2 linked regions of the Homo sapiens genome follow. The protein of the gene in region 1 purifies or fractionates together with the protein of each later gene. This does not show direct contact. Each region holds a gene or a part of one and is shown on either strand. Other genes may lie near its edges.

Evidence for each region. The genes of interacting proteins can lie anywhere in the genome.
Region 2: the proteins of DCTD (region 1) and PITPNB fractionate together in Homo sapiens (co-fractionation; one large-scale study listed by BioGRID). This does not show direct contact.

The regions. Positions count from the first base shown.
Region 1 is NC_000004.12:182,914,498-182,918,939, reverse strand, and holds the start of DCTD (deoxycytidylate deaminase), read left to right. Parts: upstream 1-1,553; 5' UTR 1,554-1,626; coding exon of another isoform or gene 1,627-1,652; exon of another isoform or gene 1,653-2,241; coding exon of another isoform or gene 2,242-2,267; intron 2,268-2,400; exon of another isoform or gene 2,401-2,654; intron 2,655-3,051; exon of another isoform or gene 3,052-3,059; intron 3,060-3,364; coding exon of another isoform or gene 3,365-3,371; coding exon 3,372-3,479; intron 3,480-3,881; coding exon 3,882-4,017; intron 4,018-4,442. UniProt on the Homo sapiens protein: Catalyzes the deamination of dCMP to dUMP, providing the nucleoside monophosphate substrate for the thymidylate synthase/TYMS.
Region 2 is NC_000022.11:27,912,757-27,916,256, forward strand, and holds part of PITPNB (phosphatidylinositol transfer protein beta isoform), read right to left. Parts: intron 1,592-3,500; coding exon 1,561-1,591; intron 1-1,560. UniProt on the Homo sapiens protein: Catalyzes the transfer of phosphatidylinositol and phosphatidylcholine between membranes. Also catalyzes the transfer of sphingomyelin.

The DNA of each region.
Region 1 (4,442 bases):
GGTGATGTATGGGTTGTAGGTTGGTAAGAAGAGAAATGGATCTATGAAGACCCAAAGACTGTAGATGAGTGTGACAAAGACCAAGCGGTGGATTTGGGAGGAGGAGGGAAACCAGGGGCTCGGGATATATGACACATTTTAGCGGCAACAAGACAGCCATGTAAAGTCAACTTGAAATTAAAAATCATCATCTTAATCTATGTGGCTCTTTCAAGCCTGAGTCTTATCAAGGCAAAAAAAAAAAAAAAAAAATCTATAGTTAACGATGAAGTATTTCTCCCTTTTGCTTTCCCGGCATCCACCAAGAGCAGTACATAATTTAATTATTGAATCTACAAGCTGGACCATGAGATGAAGAATGATGTGTCTGCTGTAGTGAGAAATTAGATAGAACCAACTGTTTACTCTCATCATTCTTCCTCCGTTAGGCTAAATTAATATAGTTAACAAGCTTTTGTTTGGAATAGCAGTTCAAATCTGGGATGTGCAGATCAGAACTGGCGATTATTACAGTAGCTGTTATTTATGGAGTGCTGACAGTCCCCTCAAGTCCCATGAATGAAACAGAAAGGGGTTCTTCTGTCATTCTCTGTGCTAGAACCACTGTAAGGGGCTAGACGTCTGCACAGGGTAACGAAGTTCATGAAAACCAGATTAAGTTGCTTGGGGCATACGACTCCAGAAATGTCACTGATGGTCTTTCCTATTGCCCTGTTTTTCTCATCTTTGAAACAACTGCAACAAAATGTGCACTATATAAGTGGGCGAGCATTACCAGGAGGTAACATGCAGGTGGGGTGCCTGTGCGGTGATACGGGTCGAGCAGGGCGCGGCAGGCTTTAGCAAACACCTCAGGCCCTTCCGCACAATTTGAGCAGAAACTGAAAGCCTGTCAGGCGCAGCCAAATGCAAATCTAGCTTCGAGGCACTGAGCCTCGAGGCACAGCGCCCCCGCCGGACCCAGTTCCCTGCCCCATCCAGTGTGTGAAACTGTGACCCAGCCACCGGCCAAGGGTCCCCACGGGGACGCTGCGACACAGCGGGCTCACTCCAGAGACCCAAACCAGGTCTCCCCACCTCCCGCCCCGCCAGTTTCACGGCACTAGATTCTTGGGGTCGTCTTTTAATCACAATCTCCATAGCCGTGTCTCTAAGCAGTTGATGGAACACGGATGGTGGGGAAAACCTCACCACCGCCACCACCACCAAACCAAGCAGCCCCCGACGGTCGTGCAGTCAGGCCCGGGAGCGCCCAACTCGCGGCCACCCAGCGCCACGCGTGACCCGGGCAGCGGGGCGACCTCGGGGCGGTCTGGCACCCGGGAAGTAGTTTGTGCTCGGGCTCTGAACACCGCCGGCCGGACCGCGGGCTGCGTCACGGGGACCGGGAGGCGTACGGCGACGCGGAGCAGCGCCTTTGCGGCGTGCGACCCGCCCCCGCCGTCCCTCCCTCCCTCCCCTCAGGGCTTCGGGCCCCCGGGGCCAGCCGCCGTCCTGCGAACGCGCGGCGCCCGGGCCGCTGCCCCCTTCCGGCCCCGCGGCGGCCCCGCCTCCTCCCCCGACTTCCTTCCCTGAGCACGGCGGCGGCGGGGACGAGCACCGGCCTGCGCGCGGAGCCGGCACCGGATGGTGGGCGGGGGCCAGCCGTGCGGGTACGCGGCCCGCGCGCCCCTAGCCACCGCCGCGTGGCACCGTCCCGAGCGCGTGGCGCGGGGCGCTGGCTGCCGGGCGGGGGCCTGGGGCCGCGGACGCTGGGGGCGCCTCGGCCGCGCTCAGCCTTTAGATCGGAGAATGCGGGCGGGGTGGGGGCGCTCGGGGTCCCCGCAGTCACTCCAGGGTCGATTTCTCGGCGGGCGCCGCGGCCTGTGCGAGGCCGGGCCCCTTGGAGTGCCCCGGGAGGTGGTGCTGGGCGTCTGAACACCACATCCCTTCCTGCGCCCGTGTGTGGGTTGGGAATGCCGGGTGTAGGCCCTGGATCAGAGCTGACGGGGTTGCGAGCGGCGTGGGGTGTGCCTGGGACGGTGACCGGATGTGTCTTCCTGAATCGTTGTATTCGAGCTCCAGTTCTCTCTGTTTCTACAGCTGGGCCTCAGTCCTCACAGGGCTCTAGTGGGCGTTCAGCCACACCAGGAGAAGGCGCCCAGGGGATTAACAGGACCCTTCCCTCTCCTGCTCTTCCCTCGCCCCCCATGGCTCCCCCTCCCTCCTATTTAGTAGGTACTTCTCCAGCACCCCACAGCGATGATGGATGCTGGCCCTAAAGCCAGGTGGGAAACCAGGCTGATTCAGCACCTGTCTTTTCCTGTTAGGGGGGTTGCCAGGCCTCTCAGATGTGGGGCAGCGTAATCAGTGGGTGACCGTGGTTCCCAGCACCCACTCTCCACTGCATCCTTGTCTTAGGCACTGCCGCCCTGCACTGTAGCAGATGCCTAAATAAAGTGTGGAGCCTGAAGCAGAAGTTTTGGGAGATGCTTGCCTTCCTTTAGACCACATTCCTCGCCTTTCTCAAGATTTCTCCGTGGTACCCACCCCGTTTTTGTGTTGTCTTCCTTCCTTGCCCTTGTTTCATTCCTTTTGAAAGCGACCACTCCCCTGAAGTCCTAGGACCCCCTTCGTGGGCTCTCCCTGCCGTAGACAGTCTCTGCTTGCCCCTGGTAAACTACGTTCCAAAAACCTTGCTTTAGGAGTAGCACTTGACGTTTTTCATAGTTTCTTCTCATGTAATTCATTACTCGGAGTTGATAACTTCTGTCCCATCTGGATTATTGAGGAGAAAGGGAAGGGAAAAATTATCTGGTTAATATCAGAGTTGGGAAGGCTTCAGATGTTTTCTTTGAATCCGTCTGGCATGGATGATAATCCTGTGTGGTTTAGGTTAAGTTACCTAAGTTCTCTGAGTCTGTGTAAGATGGGATGGCACTGTCTACCTTAGCTAGGAGTAAGGCTTGAGTGACATGATGTGTATAAACTTTAACAATGTCTGGAATCTATAGATGATCAATAAATATTTCTTTTTTCCACCCTCCTCCTGTGCTGACTCCGCTTTGTAAGGGAGACAGGTAAAGGACACAACAATTTGTAGGCTGGCATAAAAAATCCTATGAGAAAGCAGTAAATAGATGAAATATTTGGGAACGTGAAGCTATAGGTTTCAAATTCAAACTTCTGAAATAGGAAATTTCTTAAGTTTTTACTTAAGACCAGAGACTGTTTAGGGCCCATGTGCTGTGATTTCTGATTGATAAATGTAGCTGAAGTTGCCCATGTTTAGAGATTTAAAGGTTCAGTGTGGTTGGGTTGAACTGGAAAACAGACTTACTAAAATGCTTCTCTCAACTTCTGTTTTGTCATGTTTTTCTTCTAGACCCAACATGAGTGAAGTTTCCTGCAAGAAACGGGACGACTATTTGGAATGGCCAGAGTATTTTATGGCTGTGGCCTTCTTATCAGCACAGAGAAGCAAAGATCCAAATTCCCAGGTAAATGAATTTCACGGGAGAATGCTTAGATACTCACAGGCAAAGAGATTACTGCACATGAGCAGAAAGGGGAGACTCAGTGGACGCCTGTCAACTTAAAAGTGCAGGGTCGGTCTGCCTTTTGTGCTGCGTTTCTACAAGCTTAGTTCTTCCTGTGAGACAGAAAATTGTCACATGCCATTGTTAACTGCCTCTTGTGCCCCTTCTGGGACTGGGGGTGCACTTTCCTTGGCTTGTGGGTGCTGCCACAAAAAACCAGGCAAGGAGACCGACAGCTCTCAGCACCTGCAGCAGCTATGCGTCTGTTTTGAGTTCTGCAGTCCCCCTGGTTTTATTCCCTGCTTCCACAGCGGCAGACCAGCCAGTTGCAGGCACCAAGCCTTTGGGCATGTTTCCTTCTAGGTCGGCGCCTGCATCGTGAATTCAGAAAACAAGATTGTCGGGATTGGGTACAATGGGATGCCAAATGGGTGCAGTGATGACGTGTTGCCTTGGAGAAGGACAGCAGAGAATAAGCTGGACACCAAATACCCGTACGGTAGGGCAAGTTTTATGTCCCATTCTGCTTAGTGACATAGCCTGGTGAGTGCCTAATTAAGAAAGTTGGTCAGAAGGCATCATCTCCCTTTTGTCATCAACAACTGGAAAGAAAAGTATCCTACTGAACTACCCCAATTTCCTGGCCTTGTCTCTTAAGTTCCAAAGAGAGCCACGGAGAGAAGCATGGTAGTGGCCACACAGGCTGGCCCTGAGATCCAGGGCTCTGCTGCCTGTGCTGAGCCTGGCAGGCTTCACTGGCAACCTGCTGGCCTGCACCACACCAGTGCACTGATAGTCGGCGTCTCTGCAGAGGGTCACAGCCCCTTGCAGAGATAGCTGAGGGATGTGCATGGTGTCTCTGTGGGTTCCTTTTTTTACTACTTGGAAGCAGGGTCGGCTAACCAGGGGCTGGCTCGGGCTTTG
Region 2 (3,500 bases), on another chromosome or scaffold:
GGATCACTTGAGGTCAGGAGTTCGAGACCAGCCTGACCAATATGGTGAAACCCGGTCTCTAATAAATATACAAAAATTAGCCAGGTGCGGTGGCGGGTGCCTGTAATCCCAGCTACTAGGGAGGCTGAGGCACGGAGAATTGCTTGAACCCAGGAGGCGGAGGTTGCAGAGAGCTGAGATCGCAATACTGTACTCCAGCCTGGGCGATAGAGCAAGACTCCATCTCCAAAAAAAAAAAAAAAAAAAAGGTGGGGGGGGGAGTATAACAAAAAGCCGAGAACAGTATTTTCAGTGACAATACCAAGACTCAAAAAGATTTCGACAAGCTGATTCAACCAGCTGAAATCAAAAGAAAAAGTCTAACAGAAACAAGTGTCAATTTCCACATTCAACTTCAAACAATCAATTGTGCAAATAGAGAACAGGGTGCCTAGCTTCTCTGGAGTGTTTTAATACAGTGAATCCTCCTGAGATATAAACAACTGTGTTCAAGTCTACACTAAACAGTGCCAGACAGCTACTCTTTTTCACTTCCTGCATTTCTTTCTGTCTTCTGTCAGCTGTCACTTCTTAGGTTATCAGTTTGTTTTGTCCCACTTCCAAGTCACTGCTTCTAATCTACTGTCAGCTCTAGGAAAACCAGATAACTGAGCAAATGGGAACTGTGTGCAAGTTACAGAAGAGCCTAGAGGGTTTTATGGGTTTTGCTATATATATCTTGATTTCTCAGAAGCTGTTTCTGCTCTTATCTTCATTCTTGTCTACAATACACATGGCTATAACTGCAGGACATGCAAGTTCTGAATAGGTGATATATTTCTGTATCATGTCCAGACTGAGGAAAACAATAAGCTCTTACAGTTGTGTGCTGTTCATACCATGTCTGGAATACTGTTTTCAGTTCAGATCAACAATTACAACACATATAGTAACAGGACCAGCTGGTAGCAAGTCCACATATCATGCTGTATTAAGCCAAGTGAATGTGCTGGGAATGTTTAACCTTGAGACTTTCTAAGATGAAATAAAAGTGCTTGTGGGGGATGGGGTTGGCTGGAGGGGAGAGCTGCCATCAGAAAACCTGAAGGATTAACCACTACAAGACAGAACAGGCTTATTTCCCATTGCTCAAATGGGATAAACTGTAAACAAGAGTCAAGCATTATAGGAAAAGCAGATTTTGGTTCAAACACAAATGTTTAAAATGTCCAACAGTAAAGTAGGCTGCTTCTCTAAGCAGCAAGCTACTTAACCTTAAAGTACTTAAGTTGAGGCTGGAGCCTCATTTCTCTGGGATGTTGGAGAAAGAATTCCTGCACTAGACAGGAGGTTAAACTACATTCTTTAGACTCTTCCAAAACAAGGCAGTGTAGCAAGAAATTCATTATCATTCATTTAATTCATTTTGCAATTCTTTGCAATTATCATTCATATAATTAATTTTGTCACATAAGGTGGAATGAAAAGGTAAATCAATACTACGAAAATGTGAGTTTAGAGTAACATATCAAAGTACAGTACATATACCAATAAAATGATGCAGAAGCAAGAAAAACTCACCTCCTGAACAGAACATGGCAAAACCACACGGCTAAAAAGACAAAAGAAAAAATATATATATTACATATGAAATAGCTTTAAACACAGATCTCTGAAGAGGTTTTACCTTAAATCCAATGATAACAGAGACAGGTCTCTTAAATCAAAAAAATACAAGGGTGTCATTTATGGAAGAGGGTCTTTGCAATGCCTACACCATAATTGGGGAACTAAAACTATCATTCCTGGGTCTCAATGATCATTTGCATTTAGTGTTCCCAGGACCCCAAACAGCAGCTGCAGAGATTCTTGTGAGTAAAGAAAAAAGAGAAAACTCAACATTGAAAATTGCAGGGTACAGAACGTATTATTTGCAGATTGTCTGGTCAGGTTGCCCTGACTAAATTTTTAGTATGGTTTCATTCTCCACCTATATACTGTGCATTTTGTTTTTATGATGCTTCTTACAGAATACGTGTCTTGAATCTCATTGAATAAACGCTTCCAGAAACTGTTCCCCCACTATTCAATTATTCCTCAAGTTTACTAAGAGAAAAATAAGGAGTCGTGTAGAATTAGTAAGAAAAATTTTACTATGGAAACTACTTGAACCTTATAATAATCCCTTCCAGCATATATACAATATAAGGTTGACATGTGTTTCATCCTGTCCAAGAGTTTCTTATTGTATATACCAAAAAGATGTCATTATAGCTCCATTGCAAGCAGTCTTAAAAGATAAAATCCAAAACAGTATCATGGTATATTGTTTTATCAAAATATTGCATCTTATCTCTAGATTTTATAAGGAGAGTCCTTAATTTATTTCCACCATAAATCCTGAAAACCAAGAACATCCCTGTATATCAATGGTCTCATAATTATAGTTGGTTCCAAGACAGCAACTTCCTTTTTTGTGGGATGGGGGTATACGATCCTTCTCATACTTTCCTAATCTTATCTGTCATTTTATGGAAAATTTTCAATAGTTTTCCTCATTCCAATTTCTTTTCAGCTTATAATTTCTTTTTCTTTTTTTCTTGCAGTAAGAGTCATTTAGCTTATTGTTTGTATTAGTGACAATCTTTTTGGCCTAGGCATTCTTTTTTAATAGTCTTTCTTATTCGTAAGTATGAAGAGAGTAATAAAACCCAGATTATATCTAGTTTGCATTCCAGCTACACTTTCCATCTACTCCTTTCTCCCTACTCTCCTCAAACATCTATGTCTGAATGTTCACATTACCTCAATCTCCAACATGCACAAGTCTGTTACTCCCTCCCCTTTGACTACTGAGTTACTCGCCACTCTTTGTCTTTCTGGTAACGGTGATTCAAAAACAATGAACACTCTCAAATCCACAATGGTCACTAATTTCTACTCTCCATCAAGAATAAACTTTTTGTAAGTCCTTCTATACCTAAAAATTCCGAATCATTTCTCTTCTCAGTATACACTAACTTGCTCACTGTCCCAGAGCATAAAATGAGGGAGAGGAAGACTAGAAAGCTATAGGTTGGGAGCAGATTATCAGGACCTGGAATACTATGGTAAGAAATCCATTAAATTCATCAGGCAATAAGGAATCCCAAAAGGTTGGTCCAAGAGGTAAGTGACAACTACTGCTGACCTGAAGAAGTCATCTGCAGGTGGTTGAAAACACTGACAAGCAGGAGAAGTGGGGAAAGCTATCTTTTGGGAGGCTAGGCAAGAACTGTCACAAAGGCCTGAACCAAGATGATGGACTGCAGAGGGAATGGAAGGAAGGGATAGAGAAAGAAGAGTTAGTCTTCCCTTAAGTTTCACAAAACCAAAGAATCACTGCTGAGTAATTTTACACTCACTAACAGGAAGATCCCTATTTTTATTTAAGAACACTTTCAAGGAAATTCTTTCAAAAAATTAAAGTGACTGATTAAGACATTCAGAACAATGAGTCAAGTAACTTCTTCAAGATTTGC